Homo sapiens: one gene and its partners. The protein of the gene in region 1 purifies or fractionates together with the protein of each later gene. This does not show direct contact. Each region holds a gene or a part of one and is shown in the gene's direction. Other genes may lie near its edges.

Region 1 (3,500 bases):
TACTTAAACTGATTTCAGGTCTTTACCCACCCATACAAACCTTACATTTTACTTCGTTGGGGCAGTTGTTTTTAGGTGGCCGTTGGTCTTGATGTTTCGAGAACAGACATACTTAGATAAAGTCACGTAAGATTTCAGTTCTCACCTTGCACACTCTGGACATGTTGGGGCATCCATTTACCCGCTCTGTCACGTTGAACACGTTCTGTATGCCCTCTGAGTCTTATCTGGGGCTAAAGTGGGGACAATAATTTATCTCACAGTTATAATGAATATGTATTTATGGTAACATCCAAACTCTTGTTTTGTTTTGAAATGGGGATCTCGCTCTGGTTGCCCAGGCTGGAGTGCAGTGGCACGGTTAGGACTCACTGCAGCCTCGACCTCCCAGGCTCAAGCGATCTTCTTGCCTCAGCACCCCCTCCGCCAGTTGTTGGGACCACAAGTGCATGCCACCATGCCCAGCTGATTTTTTTTAATTTTTGGTAGAGATGGGGTTTCCTTATGTTGCCCAGTTGGTCTTGAAATCACGGGCTCAAGTGATCCTCCCACCTTTGCCTCCCAAAGTGTTGGGATTGCAGGCACGAGCCACTGTGCCCAGCCAAAAATCCAAACTCTTCCTCATCGACTATAACATTTCTGCCTAGTTCTGAAATGTGTTTTCATTTCTCCCTAATTCTCATCTTGAGCAACCATCTCTGCCTTACCAGGGTTCTGCCCTAGCCTTTCCGTTCCTCAACAATCTAAGCTGCTTCCTGCTCCGCCACCTTTGACACAGTAGTTCTGTTTGCCTACAGTGCCTTCGGTGGCTCCTGTGGTTGGTTCATTCTCAGATCTTAATGCCAGTGGCACCACCTCAGAGCATCACCACCTCAGAGAAGACTTCCTTGACTACCTTATGGCTCCTTCAGTAATCCCAAGTAATTGACTTGTGTGGTTCCTTCATAACCTCTATTATTGTCTGTAATTACTTTGTTTACTTGTTTCTGCTGTTCCCCCGCCACCCCCCCCAAATAAGTTCTATGAGGGCAGAGTGTCTACTGTGGTCCTTCTTTTCTGTGTCCCTGACACATCCCAGGGGGCCTGGCCACTGAGTAGGAGGGGTGTGGGTATACAGAAAGTAGTTGCGGTTTTCATGTTGTTATCTACACCTTAAAGGCAGAGATGTGCTGTGTACATGTTAGAAAGTTGTTGGTATTTCATGTCGTTTGTCCTTTTCTGAGCTGGTCTGCTTGCCTGGCTGAGTAAATCATAGCACTAATAAAACCAAAGTCCTTATCATTACATGGCCCCAACAGCCCCACAGAGAGACAACTGTCACTGCCTGTAGAGCTATGATGTGTGTCTGAGTGACTCAAGTACCAGACTGACTGGCAGTGTAGACGCCCAGATCTCTTTCACTTCTGGAAGTATAGTCATGTATAGTGTATAGAAAGTCACCATCCCAAAACCCATTTCTCCTGCTTACATAGCTTAGTGAAGTGAAACCTCAGTTATCTGAAATCTCCTGGTATCCTCAGTTTTCTGGTGTAGAATTAAGCCAGAAGGAAAATCTCCTTTGGAATTAGAAAAGCCAGAGACTTAGAAGCCCTCCATGCTAACTAAGGAAGACAGTCTCTCATGGGGATGCAGATCTAGGTTTGAATTTCAGCACTTCAATTTTATAGGGTAGATTAAAACAAAAAAAAAAACTTAAGGTTTTGTTCCTTTACGTATATAATAATGATGATGTTTCTCTCAGAGCTGGTGTGATAATGGAATGAGATAGCCGGGCGCGGTGGCTCGCGCCTGTAATCCCACCACTTTGCGGGGCTGAGGCGGGTGGAGCAGGAGGTCAGGAGTTCGAGACCAGCCTGGCCAACATAGTGAAACCCCGTCTCTACTAAAAATACAAAAATTAGCTGGGCATGGTGGCACACACCTGTAGTCCCAGCTACTCGGGAGGCTGAGACAGGAGAATTGCTTGAACCTGGGAGGTGGAGGTTGTGGTGAGCCGAGATTGTGCCACTGCACTCCAGCCTGGGCAACAGAGCGAGACTCCGTTTAAAAAAAAAAAAAAAGAAAGAAAATGGAATGAGATAATGCATGTTAGTGTATTAAGTGCCTGAAATATAACAAGTGCTAATACTTTAACACTAGTATTCTACTCCTTTATCTGACTGCTTTTGACTAGTTAGATTATGTTTTAAAGTAATAGTAATAATTCCTATTTAAAGTAATTATTACTATTAATTCTTTTCTGTGTCCCTGACACATCCCAGGGGGCCTGGCCACTGAGTAGGAGTCCGTTTTTCTTGTCAGTTTTTTTTGTTGTTGTTCTTTGGAGGGGAGTTCCCTCAATTTTTCTTTTATTGGATGTTTACTTTTTGGCTGTGGGAGTTTTGTTTTCTAACTGTTCTCCTCACCCCCTCTTTTATAATATATAATAATGGTAATAATTCCTATTTAAAGTAATTATTACTATTAATTTAAAACATAATCTGACTAGTCAAAAGTAGTATTCTGATTAATCAGCCACACCTGTGTTAGACTTGAATGTTTTTGTTAAGGAAGCCTAATGTGGGAAAAGTGTTTGAGACCAAAAGAGCAAGAGAAATGGAAATGAAAGCAGTAAGTGAATGGGCGCCTTCAGAAGGATTGCTAGTGCAAGCTGCTAGACTGGTAAGGATTACAGGTGGTCACAGTGTTAGCAGCAATTGCCTGACCTGGCTGTGGGGTCATTGCAGTTCATTGGTGGGAGACCGAGAACAAAAAAGATGCCGCACTTGCCTTCTCTGCAGAGCCTTCTGCTCTGATTATGTTTGTTCTGATACTGTTTTATCACTCCTAACAGCGAACACACTAAAATACTTTCTAAAATTGTTAAAAGGGCATCACACTTGGAGACTGGGGAGTGATGATTATCTTATTTTCCATAGCATCGGACTCTTGAGTATAGAGAAGAAAAGAAAGAAGACAGGATATATCTGAAGGCCTGGAAGGCAGGCAGTAATCTGAACATCAGTAAGTCCTAATGGTGTCATTATGCCATCCTGAAATTTTCCAGCAGATAAATTTGGTCATCTGGAGAGGCATCCATTTATATACAGCAGTTTGTGACAGTCTGAGATTATACTTAATATACACACTTGTGCTTAAAATACCTTTTTGAAGACAGGAATGTATGGCTCCTATTAGATAAGATTTCCATCAAAAACAATTTCAATAGTTCAGTGTTAATCTTTAGACAAGGTATTTTTACCCAGCGCTCTGGGTAGCTGATTATTTGGTGCTGTTTATGGTGGCACTTACAGTGATTTTTGTGGTACACATTGTTCTGACCATATCAATAATATGCTAGATGGTTGAAGCAGCTGGGTTAGCATGCTTTGAAAGTCAGATGAATTCTTACTGGTAGATTTTTACTGTATCTGTATGTTACTTGTTTAAAGTTTGTTGTGATGTGTATAATAATGGTGTTTGTTTTTAAAGCTTAATTTTGGTTTTCAGTAATGTATTAC
Region 2 (3,992 bases), on another chromosome or scaffold:
AGAAACGTTGGTCCTGGTGTGGTCGTGGTTAGGTAGCCTTCAAATTGGTTGCAAGCAGAGCCTTGGTTCTCCAAGAATGAAAGGTAGGGTCTTGAAGAAGGCAGGGTTTGTAAGGCATCCTGCCTCACCTTTTTCCTGCCCTCCTCCACCAGCGGTATCTGACCTCAGAGGCAGAGGAACACCACCAGCTCTTCGATCTGATTGAAAGCATGCTAGAGTATGAACCAGCTAAGCGGCTGACCTTGGGTGAAGCCCTTCAGCATCCTTTCTTCGCCCGCCTTCGGGCTGAGCCGCCCAACAAGTTGTGGGACTCCAGTCGGGATATCAGTCGGTGACGATCAGGCCCTGGGCCCCCCTGCATCTTTTATAGCAGTGGGTGTCCAGTCCAGGACACTGGTGCTTTTTTATACAAGAGAACGAGCCAGAGTTCACTCCTTCCTCCTGGCTCTCTATATACCTGTGAATATGTGAAATAGTGTAAATATGAAAGAACTTGTACCTATCACTTCAACCCCTGCCTTGTACATAATACTATTCCATCCACACAGTTTCCACCCTCACCTGCCCCCTCATACGGAGTTGGATGGGGGCCGAGTGAGGTAACCAGGTGGCATCTACCCCATGTTTTATAAGGAATTTTGTACAGTCTTTGTGAAATAAAATAACGTGCTTCATTTGACCCCCATCCCTGGAGTTGGAGGTTTGGGAATGCTGGGGTGGAGGGATGAAACTATTGGCAAACTTTCTGAGTTTGGGTATGAAGGGAGTCCTCCTTACCCTCCAAAATGAAGCACAGCCAGGCTACCAGTTTATTTCCCCTGTCCACCTTATCATATGGGAGGGTAGTGATGGGTGGGGCAGCATTTCTTTCAGATTAAAACAGAGAAGTGTTATGAGGTGGCACTTCTCGGATGTGGAATTATGAGAGTTGGGAAAGATCTGACTCCTAGAGTCATTAGGCCGCGGCCCAGTATAGAGCCAGAAACTCAGGTTGAAAACGTGCTCAACCTGGCTCCTAGGGGGGATTGCCACGACCGGTCAGAAGGCTCCCGTCGTCCATCTCGGGAGACTAGGAAGGCCGGATTCCTACGCGAGGCCTGCTGGGAAGTGTAGTTCGTTAGTGGAAGGAAGTCACATGGAAGAGGGGCGGTAGTTGGTTGTGGGCACTGGGTTAGAGGTATCACGTGGGGGCACTTTCGTCTTAGCTTTTGGACAAGACGCAGGCGCAACCCACGGCTGCTGCGGGGATCCTTGTGGCCCTTCCGGTCGGTGGAACCAATCCGTGCACAGAGAAGCGGGGCGAACTGAGGCGAGTGAAGTGGACTCTGAGGGCTACCGCTACCGCCACTGCTGCGGCAGGGGCGTGGAGGGCAGAGGGCCGCGGAGGCCGCAGTTGCAAACATGGCTCAGAGCAGAGACGGCGGAAACCCGTTCGCCGAGCCCAGCGAGCTTGACAACCCCTTTCAGGTGACTTGCGCCAGTCGGCCTCTTTTGGGCGGTCAGGTTGATTCTTCCCGGTTCTGTAGGGTCGGGCTAACTTGTATCCCCATTTGTGACATTTGATCCTGGGAAGAGCCGCCACGTGGGGTGACAGTGACTCCAGACCAGTGAGCACTCTGGGGGGCGGGCCCTGCCCCTTAATGGGCTGGTGCTGGCAGTGTTGGATGATGGATTTGAGGTAAATGTTGTCCCAGTCCTGGGACAACGGCGTGGCCCCGAAGGTGCAGTACTTGGAGCCACAGGCAGTTTGGGAATGGTCCCTGGGAATTCCCCTAGGTGGCACTGGGTGCCAGCTGAGACCCGGGTCTCTGCCCTCAGGACCCAGCTGTGATCCAGCACCGACCCAGCCGGCAGTATGCCACGCTTGACGTCTACAACCCTTTTGAGACCCGGGAGGTGAGCTACTGGAGAGCATAGGAGTTCAAGGAAGGGAAGGGTTTGCCAGTGAGACAAGTTAGCTTGGGTACAGGGGACTTTTCTGCATGCACAGGAAGGAAGAGGCACTGTGATCTTAGTTCCCTGAGAGAGGCTAGTCAGCCATGGGATGCCTCATCCTTCTAGGGCCACCAGGGCCACCAACCCAAATGGTTTGAGCTCTAAAAGTCAGTCCTGGGAAGATCTGGAGGCTGGCAAGGCCTTAACCAATGTTCTGTATGGGAAGGCTTTCTTGAAGAAAATAAAGGTTGGGGCTGGTTGGAGTTTAGGTTAGGTGTGCAGTTTGAAAGCAAGGAATGAGGAGGACTACACCTGTTTGTCCCACTGGATTAGAAGATGGTGAGTTGTAAGAATTTAAGGGGTTTTCATGGTACTTAAAACTTAAAAAAAAAAGCCAAGCATGGTGTGCATGCCTGTAATCCCACTTGGGAGGCTGAGGTGGGAGGATTGCTTGAGCCCAGGAATTTGATGGAGACCATCCTGGGCAACAGCGAGACCCCCATCTCTTGAAACGTTTTAAAAATTGGCTAGGTGTAGTGGCACATGCCTGTAGTCCTTGCTACTTGGGAGGCTGGGATGGAAAGACTGCTTGGGCCCAGGAGTTTGAGGCTTCGATGAGTGATGATTGCACCACTGCACTCCAGCCTGGGTGGCAGAGAGACAACCCCACACTCCATCCCCAGAAGAAAAGAAAAAAAAAAAACACAGTTAAGTGGGGAGATATGGTAAATGAGTGATTTGAGTCCTCACTAAGGAATTGGATATGAGGGATGATAAGGCTGCTACAGGTCATCATAGAGTTCTCTGACAGAAATTCAACAGAAGAACTAGCTTCCTAACAAATGGGGGAAAGGCTGCTTCCTTACATCATGAGTTCTGGGTCTAAAGGTATTCAAGCAGACTCTAGATTCCTGTGTTATGAGGGACTAGATGATCACTAAGGTCTTTTCCTCAACAGCCACCACCAGCCTATGAGCCTCCAGCCCCTGCCCCATTGCCTCCACCCTCAGCTCCCTCCTTGCAGCCCTCGAGAAAGCTCAGCCCCACAGAACCTAAGAACTATGGCTCATACAGCACTCAGGTACAGGAGGTGTGCAGGTGAGGGCTGGGGAGAAGGGCCAGTCCTGGGGCCCAGGGCTCACATCTCCGTCTGCTCACACTGGGCAGGCCTCAGCTGCAGCAGCCACAGCTGAGCTGCTGAAGAAACAGGAGGAGCTCAACCGGAAGGCAGAGGAGTTGGACCGAAGGGAGCGAGAGCTGCAGCATGCTGCCCTGGGGGGCACAGCTAGTAAGTAATAGAGTGGGGAAGAGCATCTGAGAGTTTGGGAGGAGCAAAAACAGGTCTTAAGGGCCTGGGCTCGGCTGGGTGCGGTGGCTCACACCTATAATCCCAGCACTTTGGGAGGCTGAGGTGGGCGGATCACGAGGTCAAGAGATCGAGACCATCCTAGCCAACATGGTGAAACCCTGTATCTACTAAAAATACACACACACAAAAATTAGCTGGGCATGGTGGCGCGCACCTGTAGTCCCAGCTACTCGGGAGGCTGAGGCAGGAGAATCGCTTGAACCCGGGAGGTGGAGGTTGCAGTGAGCCGAGATAGCGCCACTGCACTCCAGCCTGGTGACAGAGTGAGACTCCATCTCAAAAAAAAAAAAAAACACAAACCTGGGCTCTGGAGTCAGACTGCTGAGTTTGAATTTTAGAGATACTGCTTACTAACCATGAGCTTTTAGGGAAGTTACTTAATCTTGAATGCCTCAGTTTCCCTATTTATAAAATGAAAACCACGTTTGCATCCGTTTGACAGGGTTGTTGTGAAGGTTAAACAAAATATATGTGAAGTACTTGGTACAGTGCTTAGATGTTTTAAATAATAATAAACAGTATTAATTTTTCCACTCTCACTTGTCTCCTTGGACCCCAAATTGGAGATAAAAGAGAGGATCCAGGGCTGGGTATGGTGCCTCACGCCTGTAATTCCAACACTTTGGGAGGCCGAGGCAGGCAGGTTGCTTGAGCTCAGGAGTTAGAGACCAACCTGGACAACATAGTG
Region 3 (3,500 bases), on another chromosome or scaffold:
TCTCCCAAAGTGCTGGGATTACAGGTGTGAGCCACCGCGCTGGCATGTATATGTATTTTTATTTCCTTTTCTTTCTTTTTTCTGAGACAGATTCTTGCTCTGTCGTCCAGGATGGAGTGCAGTGGTGCGATTTGGGCTCACTGCAACCTCCGCCTCCTGGGCTCAAGCTATCCTCCCACCTCAGTGTCCCGAGTAGCCAGGACTACAGGCACATCCTGCCACGCTCGGCTAATTTTTTGTGTTTTTAGTAGAGACAGAGTTTCGCCATGTTGCCCAGGCTGGTCTCAAACTCCTGGGCTCAAGCAGTCCGCCCGTTTTGCCCTGGGAAAGTGTTGGGATTACAGGCATGAGCCACGGTGCCCGGCCCCTTTTCTTTCTTAAACAAAAGATAATGTTATAGAGGTTTTGTACTTTGCTTTTTTCTTGTAGCAAGATGTCTTGAAAATTACCCCATATTAGAACATAGAGAGCTTGTTTTTAATTATTTATTTCTATGTAGCTGCATAGTATTCCATGATAGGGATTGCACAATGTTTATTCAAATGGTTTCCTTGGAAGGACATTTAGATTATTTTGAGTAATTTGCTATTATAATGCCACATCCAATAACTCTGTGCATATGGCGTTTTCCTCAGAGAAAATTCCCAGAAGTGGGATTGCTGGCTCAAAGAGTAGCTACGCATAAATTTTTTTTTTTTTGAGATGGAGTTTTGCTCGTTGCCTAAGCTGGAGTACAATGGCGCGATCTCGGCTCATTGCAACCTCTGCCTCCTGAGTTCAAGTGATTCTTCCGCCTCAGCCTCCTGAGTAGCTGGGATTACAGGTGCCTGCCACCACACCCAGCTAATTTTTGTATTTTTAGTAGAGACGGGGTTTCACCATGTTGGCCAGGCTGGTCTCGAGCTCCTGTCCTGAGATGATCCACCCGCCTTGGCCTCCCAAAGTGCTGGGATTACAGGCGTGAGCCACCACGCCCAGCCCACTACACATAAAATTTTATTAGCTATTGCCTATTCTTTATAGGAGCTGTCCCATTTTACACTCTCATGAACAATGTATGAATGTCTGTTTCTCTACAGCCTTACTAACAGTGTTTTCAAGCTTTTGAATTTTTGCCACTCTGATATGTGAGAAGTGGCATTTCAGTGTGGTTTTCATTTGCATTTTTTTTTGTTTGTTTGTTTTTGAGACTGAGTCTCACTTTGTCACCCAGGCAGGAGTGCAGTGGTGCGGTCTCAGGTCATTGCAACTTCCGCCTCCTGGTTTCAAGCGATTCTCCTGCCTCAGCCTCCCAAGTAGCTGGGACTACAGGTGTGTGCCACCATGCCCGGCTAATTATTGTATTTTTAGTAGAGATGGGGTTTCACTATGTTGGCCAGGCTGGTCTCGAACTCCTGACCTCGTATTCCGCCCGCCTCGTGGCCTCCCAAAGTGTTGGGATTACAGATGTGAGCCACCATGCCCAGCCTCATATGCATTTCTTTTACATATGAAATTGATCATCTTTTCATAAAACGTAACTATTTATATATGTTTGTGTTTACTGCCTGCTTTCCTTTTGGGCTTTTTATCTTTTAAGTTTTTAAAAGTTCTTTGTCAGGGAAATTGGTCCTTTATCTGTGATACATATTGCACAAATTTTTTCTTCATTTTTCTTTTAACTTGGTTTTCTTTTTTCTTGGTTTTTCTTTTTACACCAATTCTGGTGTAATTGAATTTATCATTTTTTTTCTTGCAAGTGGATTCTGAGTCATAGAAAGATTTTCACTGGACCCAAATTGCAAAGGAATTGCTTTTTAAAAGGTTTTTGTAAAGTTTCATTTTTAAAAATTTTGATTTGTGATCCATTTGGTGTTTATACTGGTTTACTTCTTTACAAATGGCTAGCCAACACTACTTAATAAAGTCCATCTTTTCCTTAGTGATATGGGATGCCACCTTCATTATATATTAAATTTCCATAAGTAATTGGGTCTTATTCTGGACTTTATGTTCTGTTTCATTTGGTCTATTTGTATGCCACTACCACATTCTTATTTTTTTTATTTTTTTATTTTGAGACAGAGTCTTGCTCTGTTGCCCAGGCTGGAGCGCTGGAGTGCAATGGCATGATCTCGGCTCACTGCAACCTCTGCCTCCTGGGTTCAAGCGATTCTCCTGCCCCAGCCTCCCGAGTAGCTGGGATTACAGGCATGCACCACCATGCCTGGCTAATTTTTGTATTTTTAGTAGAGACAGGGTTTCAGCATGTTGGTCAGGCTGGTCTCGAACTCCTGACCTCGTGATCTGCCTGCCTCGGCCTCCCAAAGTGCTGGGATTACAGGCGTGAGCCACCGCGCCTGGCCTACCACATTCTTTCAATTATTCATTGTTGGCTTTTTTTTGAGATCAGGACTATTCTGGGATGAATCAGAAAGCGAGAGTAAAATTGACGGTATTAGAAAAGTTTGTAGGTGATTTACACATAGCCGTAAGAGAAAACATATGGCAAAAGTTTTGTTTGTTTTTTTTCTTTTTCAAGACAGAGTCTTGCTCTGTTGCCAGGCTGGAGTGCAGTGGCGCGATCCCAGCTCACTGCAATCTCGCCTCCGGGGTTCAAGCGATTTCCCTGCCTCAGCCTCTCGAGTAGCTGGGATTACAGGCATGTGGCAACCACGCCTGGCTAATTTTTTGTATTTTAGTAGAGATGGGGTTTCACCATGTTGGCCAGGATGGTATCGATTTCCTGATCTCGTGATCCGCCCGCCTCGGTCTTTTAAAGTGTTGGGATTACAGGCGTGAGCCACCGCACCCGGCCAGCAAAAGTTGTTCTTTAATGAGCAGATGTCTCTGTGCTGTTTAGTGTTGATATGACATACTGTGTATCTGGTTGCTGTTTCTCATAAAATGGAAATTAGGATGCCACCATATCATAATTGGTAATCCCATTTCTTCACAGTTAAATTTTCCTATCAGATTCAGTATACAGCTAAAGAGATGATCTCATGAAGGCTACTAGGCTAATTTCTTGGTTCAAGATTAGCTTTATCTTTTTATTTCTGTGGGGAAAACAAACCCAAATTCTCACTTTTTTAAAAAGCTTTTTATTCACATTAACAATAGCAGTTAAGCAGTCACACTTATGCTGATATTTAACTGGTATTTCATTAGTTTCTATAAAAACATTTGGCCCATGTTTTCTTGAATTAAACTCATTTAAAATATTTTTTCCTACATACCTTGTATAGAATCTCATAGTTTTGTTTTGTTTTGTTTTTTGAGATGGAGTCTTGCTCTGTCGCCCAGGCTGGAGTGCAGTGGCGTGATCTTGGCTCACTGCAAGCTCCACCTTCTGGGTTCACACCATTCTCCTGCCTCAGCCTCTGGAGTAGCTGGGACTGCAGGCGCCCACCACCATGCCCGGCTAATTTTTTGTATTTTAGTAGGGACAGGGTTTCACTGTGTTAGCCAGGATGGTCTCGATCTCCTGATCTCGTGATCCTCCCGCCTTGGCCTCCCAA
Region 4 (3,500 bases), on another chromosome or scaffold:
GCCTCTCCAGCCTGGGCTTTCCATGATTCTTGGGATGGATGCAGGAATGTCGCCTGTTTATTTTCATTCATGGGCTTGGTGACCACTGCTGCCCCTCACACACTGCATGGCTTGGAGCGGGTCTTGAACCTTAGCTTGCTTGTTTGTAAAATGGGAAAAATAAGATGGTCATGAAGACCCAGACAGCTTATAGGACCTACCTGGTAAAGCACTGTAATGTATATGTCTGTAATTGTCTAGTTGGTGGGCCTTTGGGGTTGCTTAGGTAAGGAGGAAAAATACCTCCTGTATGTCTCAGATACAAATGTAAGTTTTCGTCTAGTGAGTGTGGTCTGGTCTAGCCAGGGGCAGTGCTGTAACTTTAACCTATATGATTTTCCTTCCCACCAGAAAGAGCATGAAGCAGAGCCCTTCAGCGGGTGTGCACACCTTCTGTGACCGGCAGAAACCCCTTCCGGACGGTGCAGCCCAGTATTACGTAGCAGGTAGCGCTCAGCACAGCTCTGGCCCCAAACTCTCGGCTAGATGCTGACTCTTTTGGGGGCAGTCCAGGGAGACAGCATGGCATGGTGGTCAAGAGCAAGGGTTTTAGAGTCAGACAGACCTGAGTTTTAATCCCAACTCTGCCATTGACAAGCTATGTCACCTTCAGCAAATTACAGAAAAGAAACTCATCAAGGTTAAGTAAAATGGGGTTATAATGACTAAATGAGATAAAATATATAAAGCAACTAGCCCAGTGCATATAGTAAGGGCTCAACACTTGTAGCTGCTTTTATGCTAAAGTTGATTGGTATAATTTTTGATATGACTGACTTCACACAATCTCATGCCCCTTTGAAAGGGACTGGGACCCTAGTATGACTGGGCTATTCCCTGCAGGTCACCTGCCAGTGAAGCTTCCTGACTACAACAACCGTTTGAGAGTGCTGGTTGCCACCTATGTGACCTTCAGCCCCAATGGCACAGAGCTACTAGTCAACATGGGGGGGGAACAGGTATGTACAGCATAAGGTGGTTCTGCCCCATCACCATTCCATGCCCAGCAGCCAGGGGCATGTACCTTATGTTCACTGCTGAGGCAGACAAGACACAACAGCCTTATGGTAAATGATGTTACATTGAAATGTGGGGGTGATGTGGCATCATTGGAGTTCCCAGAGAGATGTCCTAGCTCAGTCTTTTTATTTCATTTTTTCTTAATGAACTAGATAGAAATATGATAGTATGGCATTTTGGTTAAGAATATAGGCTTTGGAATGGACAGACTTCTGTTCAAATGCTGGCCTGCTGTTCAGCAGCTGTTTACTGTGACTTTGAGCAAGTCTCTTTATTTTTCTGAGCCTCAGTTTCCTCGTCTGCTATTTTCCTAGGAGGAAATCCCTGGGGCTCAGAGCATGCAGCTCAGAGCAAGCTGTGGGTTAGTGCCAGCTTTGGGAAGTGTTCTTTGATAATGGCAGGTTGCTAAACCTTCTGTTTGTGTGCTCTCAGGATATTTAGTAAGCCTTGCATACATTTATTTACTCTACCAACACTGAGCACTTACTCTGGGACTCGCATTATTATAAATATAATAGAGACAAGTGGGAAATATGATCCATCCCCAGGCTGATGGGAGACATGACAAACGAAACAGTTAATGACATTACAAGGCAAGGCCCAAATATATACAAATGAAGCGGGATGCAGAATAGGTGAGGATAAGCCAGACATTCCTGGACCTGTCCAAGGAATCATGAAAAGCTCAGGAGTAGTGCTAGGGTAAACATTTGGCTTTGTGACCTTTGAGGACTTCTTCATCTTTTTAAACATGTGACGTGTTTTTTGTTTTTTTTTTTTGAGTTGGAGTTTCGCTCTTGTTGCCCAGGCTGGAGGGCAATGGTGCGATCTCGGCTCACTGCAACCTCCGCTCTGCCTCCTGGATTTAAGCAATTCTCCTGCCTCAGCCTTCCAAGTAGCTGGGATTACAGGCACATGCCACGCCTGGCTAATTTTGTATTTTTAGTAGAGATGGGGTTTCACGATGTTGGTCAGGCTAGTCTCGAACTCCTGACCTCAGGTGATCCGCCCACCTCACCCTCCCAAATGCTGGGATTACAGGCATTAACCACTGCACCTGACCTTCTATTTTGTTTGTTTGTTTGTTTGTTTTGAGGCAGGGTCTCATTCTGTCACCCAGGCTGGAGTGCAGTGGTACAATCTCAGGTCACTGCAGCCTCGACATCCCAGGCTCAAGTGATTCCCCCACCTCAGCCTCCTGAGTAGCTGGGACCACAGGCACACGCCACCACACCTGGCTAGTTTTTGTATTTCTTGTAAAGACGGGGTTTTGCCATGTTGCCCAAGCTGGTCTCAAACTCCTGGGCTCAAGCAACCACCCTCCTGCCTCAGCCTCCTAAAGTGCTAGGATTACAGGCTACGCCACCATGCCCAGCCAAATGTGATTCTAATTAATGATAGTATTTCAAGCAGGACTTTGGGTAGATCAGATAGCCCACCCTGAATGCTAGAGCTAGGAAGATTTTCCAGCCTGAGGTTTGCTGGAAGTACCTCTTAGGATAGCTTGATTGTTCTATGCTCAACACTCACTGTGTTCCAAGACTCTAGTTCTTGAGAAACCAAGACCTGCTTACTGGTTCAACCACATCCTTACCTCACAGCTTCCATCTCTTTTTTTGCCCCCCTCAACTCTAGGTCTATTTGTTTGACTTGACTTACAAGCAGCGGCCGTACACCTTCCTCTTGCCTAGAAAATGCCACTCCTCGGGGGGTAAGTTCTCCCTTAGGGTATCTCTACTGCGGCGGTGTAGGGGAGCTTAAGTGCATGCTACACCTGCTGAGAAGCCTGCCCTTTACTCTGGACCGTGATCCTCCAAAAATAGCAGATCTCTGAAATAACCCCACCTATGCAGTAAGAAAGAGGATGACAATAGAGCAGAGATCTCTTCAAGAGCTTTGCATCACTGCCCTTTTTGCTTCCCTCTGAAAAGACAGGTTCCTTCCATGGCTTGGCTCTTGAGAACCTGAAATAGTTCCCCTCTCCTTTGTATCCTGGCCCAGTCTTCTCATTGATTTCTTCCTGGGGCCTACAGTTGATTTAGGCACCTCCTCACTCCATTCCCACCCCCAGCCCCAGCCCTAGCCCCAGCCCCAACCCTAGCCCCAGCCCCAGCCCTAGCCCCAGCCCCAGCCCCAGCTGAGTAATGCCACGGTGAAGTTGTGTCCCTCGCCAGCCAGCAGAGGGCGCACGGGCTTTTCTTTATGTCAGAACTTGCTTTCTGGGAATGGATCTTACTCTGGGAGAACAGTCCCACGATGGAACCATCAGACCCCGTGATGGAAGCTAGAGGGCTGCCAGGAAGAAATGGGTCCTCTTCCTGAGTTGTTGCTGTCACTTTCTCACTATCTCCTGCCAGAAGTCCAGAATGGCAAGATGTCCACCAACGGTGTGTCCAACGGTGTGTCCAATGGCCTGCACCTTCATAGCAATGGCTTCCGGC
Region 5 (3,500 bases), on another chromosome or scaffold:
AGGGTGCTGTTGCCCCACCCATGGTGGCTTTTCTTTTACATCACCTGACACACTTTGATCCCTGTCAGAATTGTACAGTGGACTTTGAGCTAAAGAAACTGATGGAAAAATCTTTCCACAGAGGGTCAAGAAAGCTAGGTTCTGGGGTGGGCTCTGCTGCTTAACAGCTATGTTGCTGTGGGCAAATCATTTCCAGTTAGATGGGATACTCTCAGCCACCCAAATAAGCAATAAGGATTAAGTTATCAAAACAGTGGTATAGTCATGCACCCTTTGGATCTAGGCTTTGGGTGAGGAGTATAAGGAAGACATCACCAGAAATCACGTCATCCTTAACATCAGACTGCATGGGAAAGGTAGGGCAGGGCATGGCTACTTCCTCATCCAGAGCTCAGACCACAGCACCTGCAGCATACTCAGTGGACACTCTGGAGTTGTTCAGATGGTGCTTGGTGAGCAGCTCTACTATTCAGGGGCCCTTACCAAGTTTCAGGTGGGGGTACTAAAGACACATGGGTATGGTCCCTGTCCTTCAGGAGCTGATGTTCTGGTATGGCAGAGAGTTACTTATGGAAAGCATTCTGAGATAGAAGGGTGCTAGGAGAGAGGTTCCACAAATGCTATAGGATTTCAGGGGGTCAGATGCTTCCAGTTTGATGAGGAAAGTGTCATGAATGAATTGGCACTTGAGTTGGTATCACCCACCTGTGCTGGGTCAAAAGTTTATGAAGAAAGCAGAATGGAGCTAGGCGTGATGGCTCACACCTGTAATCCCAGTGCTTTGGGAGGCCTCTAATATTTGTTGACAGTGATTTTGACGTCTGTGCTTGTTGGGTCATTTACTACTTGATGGCTTATGTTTAGGCTGCCCTGCCCAGCAGCCTTGAACCCAGGAGTTTGAAACCATGCTGGGCGATATAGCAAGATCCTGTCCCTACAAGAAATGTAAACAATTAGCCAGTTGTGGTGGTGTGTGCCTATAGTTCCAGCTACTCAGGAGGCTGAGGTGGGAGGATCACTTGAGCCAGGGGAGGTTGAGGCCGCAATGATCTGTGATCACACCACTGCACTCCAGCCTGGGCAACAGAATGAGACCCCGTCTCAAAGAAAAAACAACAGTGGAAAGGAAATCTGCAGAGAACAATAAAAGCAAAATTGTGGACTCCTTGAGGATTTTTTCACAAATGCTTCTGTCTTTAGTTATGGCTGCCATTAAATGTAATTTTTTTTTCCTCAAGAAATTTTTCTGAGCTTGGTGTTCTACAAAAAACAAAAACAAAAAAACTCTAGATCTTCGTTTATATACAGGCTGTCCTAGACTTCCTTGTGGCTGAAGTAGCTGGTTATGTTTTTGTTCTGAATCTCAAACATTAATCTCTTTTATTAAAATCCTCTAAAATACAGTCATTTTTTCCATGAAATAGACCACAAGTTGCTGTGTTTCTTATTTTCAGAAATTTAACTTGTTTTTAACCTTTATTTCTAACTCTGGTGGACTTAGAGGACATTTGAATTTAATCTTGCAATGTTTGAAGCTTGTGGGAGTAAAATGTTTAGAATCTGTATTTTTAGCACTAACTCTGATATTAACACCACCTGCATCTTTTCCTAGTAAATGGGGAGCAGGAGAACCGAGTGCAGAAGGGAAATGGATATTTTCAAGTGCCCCCACATACACCCGTGATCTTTGGTGAAGCTGGAGGTCGCACACTGTTCAGGTATGGGTAAGAAAGACAAGAGGTTCTGCCTGAGAAGGTATCCCATTTGCTAAGAAGTGTCGACTCAAACTCAGTATTTCGATATTAGAAATAGTTTATTATTAAATTCTAGGGATGCCAGGGATTGGAAGCATCCCATGTCCATGAGATAGTGAAATGTCTGCTGCTGTTAGACCACATTCTAATTGGGAGGAGAAACTCTAGTGTTCGAATGAGGTAGAATACTTTGCCTCGAAGCAGCTTCTCTATTGGTTTCTGTAGGTAATTCTCACTTTCCTTCACTTTGCCCGTGTGACTGCAAGGGCCAAGCAACAGATGATACCACTAGAATTCCCTGCCCACAGAAGAGCTTCAGAGTACATTACATTACTTTTCTTAGGCTGATCCAGCCAAGATGAGCTGGGCTGCTCCTGGGAACTGTTGAGGCTGACACTGACACTGCCTGGGGTGCCAGACAGTTATGTGTGGGGCCCTTCAGGGAAGGGCTGGACTGGTTCACCTCCAAGTTGCTAGCAAGGTCCTGGTAGAGCCGGGGGAGAGCTTACTAGTCTATAGGTGCCAGAAGAAAGAAAGAATAAGACATGCTTGTCTTATTCTTGAGTGCAGGATTATCTATCTTTCTGATAGTTTCCTGAGTGGTTACCAGAAATATTCTGACTTCCACTGTGTGTGAAAGTCTCTGCCATGCACTGTGGCACTAGCTGGGGACCTTTACTGGGTGCTTTGCTTGCACCCAGGTTTCCTGTCATCACCCAAGGACTCCAAGAAGCAGCTGTAGTGTATGCCTGGCCTTGGAATCTGGGGGCCTGATTTTAGGGCCTGCTTTCCCTTTTAGCTGAGTGAGTCATTCTTCCAGGCTGTACTTTTATTTCCTCAGCTGTCAAGTGGGGGTTATCCTACATGAAAACCATGAGGGTTCCTCCCGCTAATATTTGTTGACAGTGATTTTGACATCTGTGCTTGTTGGGTTACTTACTACTTGATGGTTTATGTTTAGGCTGCTCTGCCGAGATTCCGGGGGTGAGACTGAGTCTATGCTTCTTAATGAAACAGTGCCACAATGGGTAATTGACATCACTGTGGATGTAAGTATCCTCCACTCCCACTTTGCTCTTTTATTTTTTTGTAACTCATGAAATTAAGAACTGCTTTAGACATTATAATTTTAAACCTTAATAAAAGCTAGACTCCCAAGTGGAATCCCCATCTGCTTCCTTGCAGTTCCAAAGTTGCAGAAATAGTACTGATAATTATTTATCTATCTAGCTTTGTTGGTTTTTAATTATAAAAATAATATATGCTTATTCAACAAAATAATAAATGAATGAAGCTCTCATCTTCCCCAAGCATTCATTCTTGCCCATTCACTCCCTATCCTTCCTCCCAGAGGTAACAACTATTAATAAATTAATGCATAGCCTTCAGTACTTTTTTCTTTGCATACAAGCATATATTATTTGTGTACATAGATGTGTCTACAGTTCATTTTATATTGCACAAAATCTCTTATACTGTTCTGCAACTTTTTTTTCACCTAAAAAAATGTATCCTGGACATCTTTTCATGTCTGTACATCTTTTCATGTCTGTACATGTGAATCATTCCTTTTTAATGACTGTGTAAGATTCTACTGTATAAATGTACCATAATTTATTTAATCAGTCCCCTATTAATGGACATTTAGGTTGTTTCCAATGTTTTCTATTACAAATAGTGCTGCAGTGAACATCCTTGTACATATATCTTTGTGTGCTTTTTAGGATAAATTCCTAGAAGTGGAAT
Region 6 (3,500 bases), on another chromosome or scaffold:
TCAAAAAAACATCTAAACTAGAATCCGTCTGTGGTATTCAGCTAGAACAAAAAACAGAAAACAAAAATTTTGAAACTACACAAGTATGTAATGAAAGTCCACATGGAGATGGCTACAGCTCAGGGGTTATTAAAGACATTTGGACAAAGATGGCAGACACAAATTCTGTGGCTACAGTAGAAATAGAAAGAACTGATGCTGAGTTGTTTTCGGCAGATGTAAATAACTACTGCTGCTGTCTAGATGCTGAAGCTGAACTGGAGACCCTTCAGGAGCCTGATAAGGCTGTGCGGAGGTCAGAGTACCATCTGTGGGAGGGACAGAAAGAGAGCCTGGAGAAAAGAGCATTTGCTTCTAGTGAGCTATCAAACGTGGATGGTGGTGATTATACAACACCCTCTAAACCCTGGGATGTAGCCCAAGATAAAGAAAACACATTCATTCTTGGAGGAGTTTATGGAGAACTCAAAACCTTCAATAGTGATGGGGAGTGGGCAGTCGTACCACCTAGTCACACAAAAGGAAGTCTGTTACAGTGTGCAGCTTCTGATGTTGTGACGATAGCTGGTACAGATGTCTTTATGACCCCAGGAAACAGTTTTGCTCCTGGGCACAGGCAGTTATGGAAACCCTTCGTGTCATTTGAACAGAATGATCAGCCGAAGAGTGGGGAAAATGGGTTAAATAAGGGATTTTCTTTTATCTTCCATGAAGACTTACTAGGAGCTTGTGGCAACTTTCAAGTCGAAGATCCTGGACTTGAATACTCATTTTCTTCCTTTGACTTAAGCAATCCATTTTCACAAGTTCTTCATGTAGAATGCTCATTTGAACCTGAAGGGATTGCATCTTTCAGCCCCAGTTTTAAACCGAAATCAATCCTCTGTTCTGATTCAGACAGTGAAGTGTTTCACCCCAGGATATGTGGTGTTGACAGAACACAATACAGGGCTATTCGGATCTCTCCTCGGACTCACTTTCGCCCAATTTCTGCATCCGAACTGTCCCCAGGAGGAGGAAGCGAGTCAGAATTTGAATCTGAGAAAGATGAAGCAAATATTCCCATTCCTTCTCAAGTTGATATATTTGAAGATCCGCAGGCAGATCTCAAACCTTTGGAAGAAGATGCAGAGAAAGAAGGCCATTACTATGGAAAATCAGAGCTTGAGTCTGGAAAATTCCTTCCCAGGTTAAAAAAATCTGGGATGGAAAAGAGTGCTCAGACATCACTGGATTCCCAGGAGGAATCAACTGGGATTCTTTCAGTAGGAAAGCAAAATCAGTGTTTGGAATGTAGCATGAATGAATCCCTGGAAATAGATTTAGAAAGCTCAGAAGCAAATTGTAAAATAATGGCACAATGCGAGGAAGAAATTAATAATTTTTGTGGTTGCAAAGCAGGTTGTCAGTTTCCTGCTTATGAAGATAATCCAGTTTCTTCGGGACAGCTGGAAGAGGTATGTGTCTGCGTGTTGGTATTTGACAAAAGGATTTGATCAGAGTTTAACCCAAGAACAGACATGCCAGTCAATGAAAGATAGGGTTAAATTATTGGGAAATTAGCTTAAATGTCTTAAAACTTAAATTGTTCTAATTTTACATGTAAGGACTTAAAATGGATTTGATATTTATGAATTTGAACTAGACAGTAGAGTTTTTCTGGAGAGAAAAAGCTTTTAAAAATCACAGGATGTAAGATTCCTATGTGTTGTCTTAAGATGCATGTTATTGGCCGGGTGCAGTGGCTCACGCCTGTAATCCCAGCACTTTGGGAGGCCGAAGTGGGTAGATCATTTGAGGTCAGGAGTTCAAGACCAGCTTGGCCAACATGGTGAGACCCCGTCTCTACTAAAAATACAAAAATTACCCAGGCGTGGTGGCAGGCACCTGTAATCCCAGCTCCTTGGGAGGCTGAGGCAGGAGAATCACTTGAACCCGAGAGGCAAAGGTTGCAGTGAGCCGAGATCGTGTTCTGTACTCCAGCCTGGGTGACAGGGTGAGACTCCATCTCAAAAAAAAAAAAAAAAAAAAAATACATGTATTATGCTTAAAGCAAAAACCTAACATGAAAGTGTTCTAACATTCAAAGTTGATGAATCAGGAAGTGGCTGCTATTAAAGTGTAGCAAACCTGTCTAACTGACTCTTAGAAGTTGATCACTTTATCAAAACTTGTGTTTTACATATAAAACAAATTATATCTCTATGGAGTTCTCAAAAATACATTGTGGTACATGTAGAAATTCACCCACAGCCCAAATGCAACAAAATTTCTTCTACAGAACCTATACAGATGTATCTTGCTTTATACAAAGTACATATTCCAGAAGCTGTGTGGATTATATGTTAAGGCTATGGAATGAGGATCACATTAAGTTGTGTTAATGAGAGTCATTGTACCTCTCCACTGTATGCCCAAGAAATGGCTTAAGGTTAAACTGATTGTACAAGAAATAACACTTAAGACAATAAACTGTTTCACAAAAAAAGCACAGCAGTCTGCCCATTTTTCCACTGTTTTCGATATGTGAGTGCCTAGCCTTTCTCCAGAAATAGTTTATTTAATTTTGTTTTTGTTTTTGTTTTGTTTTGGGGACAGAGTCTCGCTCTGTCGCCCAGGCTTGAGTGCAGTGGTGCGATCTCAGCTCACTGCAACCTCCACCTCCCAGGTTCAAGTGATTCTCCTGCCTCAGCCTCCCAAGTAGCTGGGATTAAAGGCATGCGCCACCACGCCCGGCTAATTATTTGTATTTTTAGTAGAGACGGGGTTTTACCAGGTTGGCCAGGCTGGTCTTGAACTCCTAACTTCAAGTGATCCACCTGCCTTGGCCTCCCAAAGTGTTGGGATTACAGGCGTGAGCCACCGCGTCCGGCCCAGCTTATTGAAAAAAAGAGATGGAGGTGTTTAGAAGCCATGCCACCTGTGGCCAGAGAGCAGATGAGTGTTGCACTTCCTCCCAACTGTCCTGCACACCCTACCCACCATTGCACATCCAAATCCTACCCATACCATGAGACTTATTTCATATACCACCTCCTTCACTGACACTTTCCCTAATTCCCTCTCTCCCCTGCTCCAGCCCCACTCTGCATCAGAATTAATTTTGCCCCTCTCTTAATTTTCATGCACTTTATGCCTCTTTTTGATTGCATTTTTCATTTCTCATGAGTTATTTATATCCTGGACTATAAGCTCCTTGTGGCTGTGGACCATGCCTTACTTATTTGTCGCATCAGAGTGCCCAGGTGTGGGACTGCTTGCCTGTGATTCTAGGAAGCCCCCAGGCGACTTGAGAGGCACTGCTCTAATCAGCTACCTAGAGACCCGTAGAGGATGAATTTAATCCCATTGAAACACTGCTAAGAAAAAACCCAATAATATTGTTAGCCTTTATCTGTTTGTTTATTGCCCCATTTTTCATCCTTAAATATTCCTTTATGTACTTTGTATTTCACCTGGTTCCAGATTGGGAAGAAAGAAAAAGAGGAAAGAAGCAAGAT
Region 7 (3,500 bases), on another chromosome or scaffold:
CCGGGCGGCTGGCCGGGCGGGGGGCTGACCCCCCCACCTCCCTCCCGGATGGCACGGCTGGCCGGGCGGGGGGCTGACCCCCCACCTCCCTCCCGGATGGGGCGGCTGGCCGGGCGGGGGGCTGACCCCCCCTCACCTCCCTCCCGGACGGGGTGGCTGCCGGGCGGAGATGCTCCTCACTTCCCAGATGGGGTGGCTGCTGGGCGGAGAGGCTCCTCACTTCTCAGACGGGGCAGCTGCCGGGCGGAGGGGCTCCTCACTTCTCAGACGGGGTGGTTGCCAGGCAGAGGGTCTCCTCACTTCTCAGACGGGGCGGCCGGGCAGAGACGCTCCTCACCTCCCAGACGGGGTCTCGGCCGGGCAGAGGCGCTCCTCACATCCCAGATGGGGCGGTGGGGCAGAGGCGCTCCCCACATCTCAGACGATGGGCGGCCGGGCAGAGACGCTCCTCACTTCCTAGATGTGATGGCGGCTGGGAAGAGGCGCTCCTCACTTCCTAGATGGGATGGCGGCCGGGCGGAGACGCTCCTCACTTCCCAGACTGGGCGGCCGGGCAGAGGGGCTCCTCACATCCCAGACGATGGGCGGCCAGGCAGAGACACTCCTCACTTCCCAGACGGGGTGGCGGCCGGGCAGAGGCTGCAATCTCGGCACTTTGGGAGGCCAAGGCAGGCGGCTGGGAGGTGGAGGTTGTAGTGAGCCGAGATCACGCCACTGCACTCCAGCCTGGGCACCACTGAGCACTGAGTGAACGAGACTCCGTCTGCAATCCCGGCACCTCGGGAGGCCGAGGTTGGCGGATCACTCGCGGTTAGGGGCTGGAGACCGGCCCGGCCAACACAGCGAAACCCCGTCTCCACCAAAACCAGTCAGGCGTGGCGGCGCGTGCCTGCAATCGCAGGCACTCGGCAGGCTGAGGCAGGAGAATCAGGCAGGGAGGTTGCAGTGAGCCGAGATGGCAGCAGTACAGTCCAGCTTCGGCTCCGCATGAGAGGGAGACCGTGGGGAGAGGGAGACGGAGACGGAGACGGAGACGGAGACGGAGAAGGAGGGAGAGGGAGAGGGAGACGGAGAGGGAGACGGAGAGGGAGAGGGAGAGGGAGAGGGACGGAAGTTATAAGATTCTAACCCTCCCTAAAATGCTCCTAAGATCAGTGCTTGAGATATTTTGCAGACCCTGCACTTGATAGACCAACTGGCACCACCCAGATCAATAAACTGGCTCGTCTGATCTTATGTCCCCTACCTAGGAACTGACTCAGCACAAGAGGACAGCTTCAACTTCCCATTTCATCTCCAACCCAACCAATCAGCACTCTGTTCTCTGGCCTTCCCCCACCCACCAAATTATCCTTAAAAACTGATCCCTGAATGCTCCAAGAGACTGATTTGACTAATAATAAAAATCCTGGTCTCCCACACAGCTGGCTTTGGGTGAATTGCTCTTTCTCTATTGCAATTCCCCTGTCTTGGTAAATCAGCTCTGTCTAGCCAGCGGGCAAGGTGAACCTGTTTGGCGGTTACATGATTTCTCTTTTTTTTTTAAAAAAAAAAACAACAACTAATTTTTGAACGATTAATTACTTTAGTGTTTATATTGTATTATTCAGATATATAGTGAGTATCTTGAACCTTGAGCTTATTGAACCTTATATATAATAAAGCTCATTACTTAGGAGTTTATTCAGTTAAGAAGTAATGGAGTACAAAAAGAAGGTTTAAGTCCAATCTAAATTTTCTTTTATTTAGCTAAGATTTTCTTCTATGTCAGATGACAGTTGAGTCTTCTCAATGAAGGTGAGGCTTATAGGGATGAATTCACTTTCTAAACTAAGCACACCACCCCCTCCGGAGTTGCATTTTTGTTGAGGACCTTAACTGCCACTGACTCCCCTTGAGTAGCAAGGTGTTGAATGAGAGGTACTTTTATCAAAGGGAGCATAATGCACATGAAAAACCCAGAAGTGAAAGTAAGATTTTATATGGGTGTTAGGATGGGCATAGACTTTTAAGTTTATTGTAATTGACACTAATTAGAGACTTGTATGCTTACACTATGCTTCAGGCCCTTATTTTATCTGTGAGTAAAGTTTATTGCAATTCAAAATAGTTCAGTGAAGAAAGTATACTTTGTTATTGTGGCTAAAATGAAATAGCATTTGTTAATGCCTCATTGTGATAAAAGGGCTATTCACGGAGATGACTGAAAAGGAGGAAAGGAGCCTTTGATCCCTGTGATAATGAAAATGAATCCTTTTTTTTTTTTTCCTATCCCCTTACTCATACACTATCAGGCTAGATCTTGCCTTTGGGATACCATTTAAAGGAATTATAAAAAGAGGGTAGAGTTTTAAAAGGAAGCCTAGGGGATATAAGGTATGTAAATGAAGGCAGATCTGAAGCTTAGAAGATATTAAGAAGACCCTGAGGGTAATTCAGTTTTGTGCTGCAGTGATGTTAAAAGGTGCTAATCATAGGGCCAGGTGTGGTAGCTCATGCCTGTAATCCCAACACTGGGAGGCAGGTGGATCACCTGAGGTCAGGAGTTCGAGACCAGCCTGGTCAAGATGGTGAAACCCCATCTCTACTAAAAATACAAAAAAAATTAGCCAGGCATGGTGGCAGGCACTTCTAATCCCAGGTATTTGGGAGGCTGAGGCAGGAGAATCACTTGAACCTGGGAGGCAGAGGTTGCAGTGAACCAAGACTACGCCATTGCACTCCAGCCTGGGCAACAAGAACGAAACTCCATCTCAAAAAAAAAAAAAAAAGCTAATCATAAGCTGGCACAGTGGCTCACACCTGTAATCCCAGCAGTTTGGGAGGCTGAGGTGGGTGGATCACGTGAGGTCAGGAGTGAAACCCTGTCTCTACTAAAGAATACAAAAAAATTAGGCACGGTGGTGTGTGCCAAATGGAGGTTGCAGTGAGCCGAGATCGTGCCACTGCACTCCACCCTGGGCAACAGAGCAAGACTCAGTCTCAAAAAAGAAAAAAAACTAATCATAGGTCATTAAAAAAATCTAAAAGGCTATGAAGGAGACATTTCTACCAATATTTAAAATAAAAGCTTTGTTCTTAAAATGAGTAAATAATGAGCTAGGTAGAAACTTTGGCTATTCAGAATAATCTTTTCCCCAGAGGCAACCACCATGGATAACAGATTACTGTAATAGACTGGAAACTAATCTGAAGTGAAAATTGAAGCAAGGAAGCACATTGGAATAAATAAATCAGCAGTTGAAAGCAATAAAGACTGCATTTAACTACACCGAAAAGTGCTAAGTAGGATTTCCAACATGATATTGAAGGTTCAATAGGAGTTGTCAGTTTGGTTTGAGTAACTTAAAATTGTCAAGTTAAATAGTTGATTAAGGATGAAGATAGCCAGAAAATTAGTAGCTACTATTTTAATTGATAAAAGTAACATCAATTTAAAATTTTTCACTATTTTTAATTAACATGGTGCTAAAAATGAATGGGTTGTACAGGGGAAACGG

The links.
Region 2: the proteins of SOCS6 (region 1) and SCAMP3 purify together in Homo sapiens (affinity purification with mass spectrometry, with the first as the bait; one large-scale study listed by BioGRID). This does not show direct contact.
Region 3: the proteins of SOCS6 (region 1) and POLA1 purify together in Homo sapiens (affinity purification with mass spectrometry, with the first as the bait; one large-scale study listed by BioGRID). This does not show direct contact.
Region 4: the proteins of SOCS6 (region 1) and WDTC1 purify together in Homo sapiens (affinity purification with mass spectrometry; 2 studies listed by BioGRID and IntAct, with this or other methods). This does not show direct contact.
Region 5: the proteins of SOCS6 (region 1) and WDR48 purify together in Homo sapiens (affinity purification with mass spectrometry, with the first as the bait; one large-scale study listed by BioGRID). This does not show direct contact.
Region 6: the proteins of SOCS6 (region 1) and KIAA0232 purify together in Homo sapiens (affinity purification with mass spectrometry; 2 studies listed by BioGRID and IntAct, with this or other methods). This does not show direct contact.
Region 7: the proteins of SOCS6 (region 1) and HIGD1A purify together in Homo sapiens (affinity purification with mass spectrometry, with the first as the bait; one large-scale study listed by BioGRID). This does not show direct contact.

The regions. Positions count from the first base shown.
Region 1 is NC_000018.10:70,292,045-70,295,544, forward strand, and holds part of SOCS6 (suppressor of cytokine signaling 6), read left to right. Parts: exon of another isoform or gene 1-3,003; intron 3,004-3,034; exon of another isoform or gene 3,035-3,500. UniProt on the Homo sapiens protein: SOCS family proteins form part of a classical negative feedback system that regulates cytokine signal transduction.
Region 2 is NC_000001.11:155,259,561-155,263,552, reverse strand, and holds the start of SCAMP3 (secretory carrier-associated membrane protein 3), read left to right. Parts: upstream 1-1,192; 5' UTR 1,193-1,401; coding exon 1,402-1,467; intron 1,468-1,818; coding exon 1,819-1,896; intron 1,897-2,893; coding exon 2,894-3,016; intron 3,017-3,102; coding exon 3,103-3,223; intron 3,224-3,992. Other genes in the region: dual specificity protein kinase CLK2, read left to right, coding at 153-335. UniProt on the Homo sapiens protein: Functions in post-Golgi recycling pathways. Acts as a recycling carrier to the cell surface.
Region 3 is NC_000023.11:24,710,918-24,714,417, forward strand, and holds part of POLA1 (DNA polymerase alpha catalytic subunit), read left to right. Parts: intron 1-3,500. UniProt on the Homo sapiens protein: Catalytic subunit of the DNA polymerase alpha complex (also known as the alpha DNA polymerase-primase complex) which plays an essential role in the initiation of DNA synthesis.
Region 4 is NC_000001.11:27,293,632-27,297,131, forward strand, and holds part of WDTC1 (WD and tetratricopeptide repeats protein 1), read left to right. Parts: intron 1-390; coding exon 391-485; intron 486-882; coding exon 883-998; intron 999-2,694; coding exon 2,695-2,770; intron 2,771-3,416; coding exon 3,417-3,500. UniProt on the Homo sapiens protein: May function as a substrate receptor for CUL4-DDB1 E3 ubiquitin-protein ligase complex.
Region 5 is NC_000003.12:39,086,516-39,090,015, forward strand, and holds part of WDR48 (WD repeat-containing protein 48), read left to right. Parts: intron 1-1,612; coding exon 1,613-1,718; intron 1,719-2,715; coding exon 2,716-2,803; intron 2,804-3,500. UniProt on the Homo sapiens protein: Regulator of deubiquitinating complexes, which acts as a strong activator of USP1, USP12 and USP46. Enhances the USP1-mediated deubiquitination of FANCD2; USP1 being almost inactive by itself.
Region 6 is NC_000004.12:6,862,727-6,866,226, forward strand, and holds part of KIAA0232 (uncharacterized protein KIAA0232), read left to right. Parts: coding exon 1-1,457; intron 1,458-3,465; coding exon of another isoform or gene 3,466-3,500.
Region 7 is NC_000003.12:42,794,491-42,797,990, reverse strand, and holds part of HIGD1A (HIG1 domain family member 1A, mitochondrial), read left to right. Parts: intron 1-3,500. UniProt on the Homo sapiens protein: Proposed subunit of cytochrome c oxidase (COX, complex IV), which is the terminal component of the mitochondrial respiratory chain that catalyzes the reduction of oxygen to water. May play a role in the assembly of respiratory supercomplexes.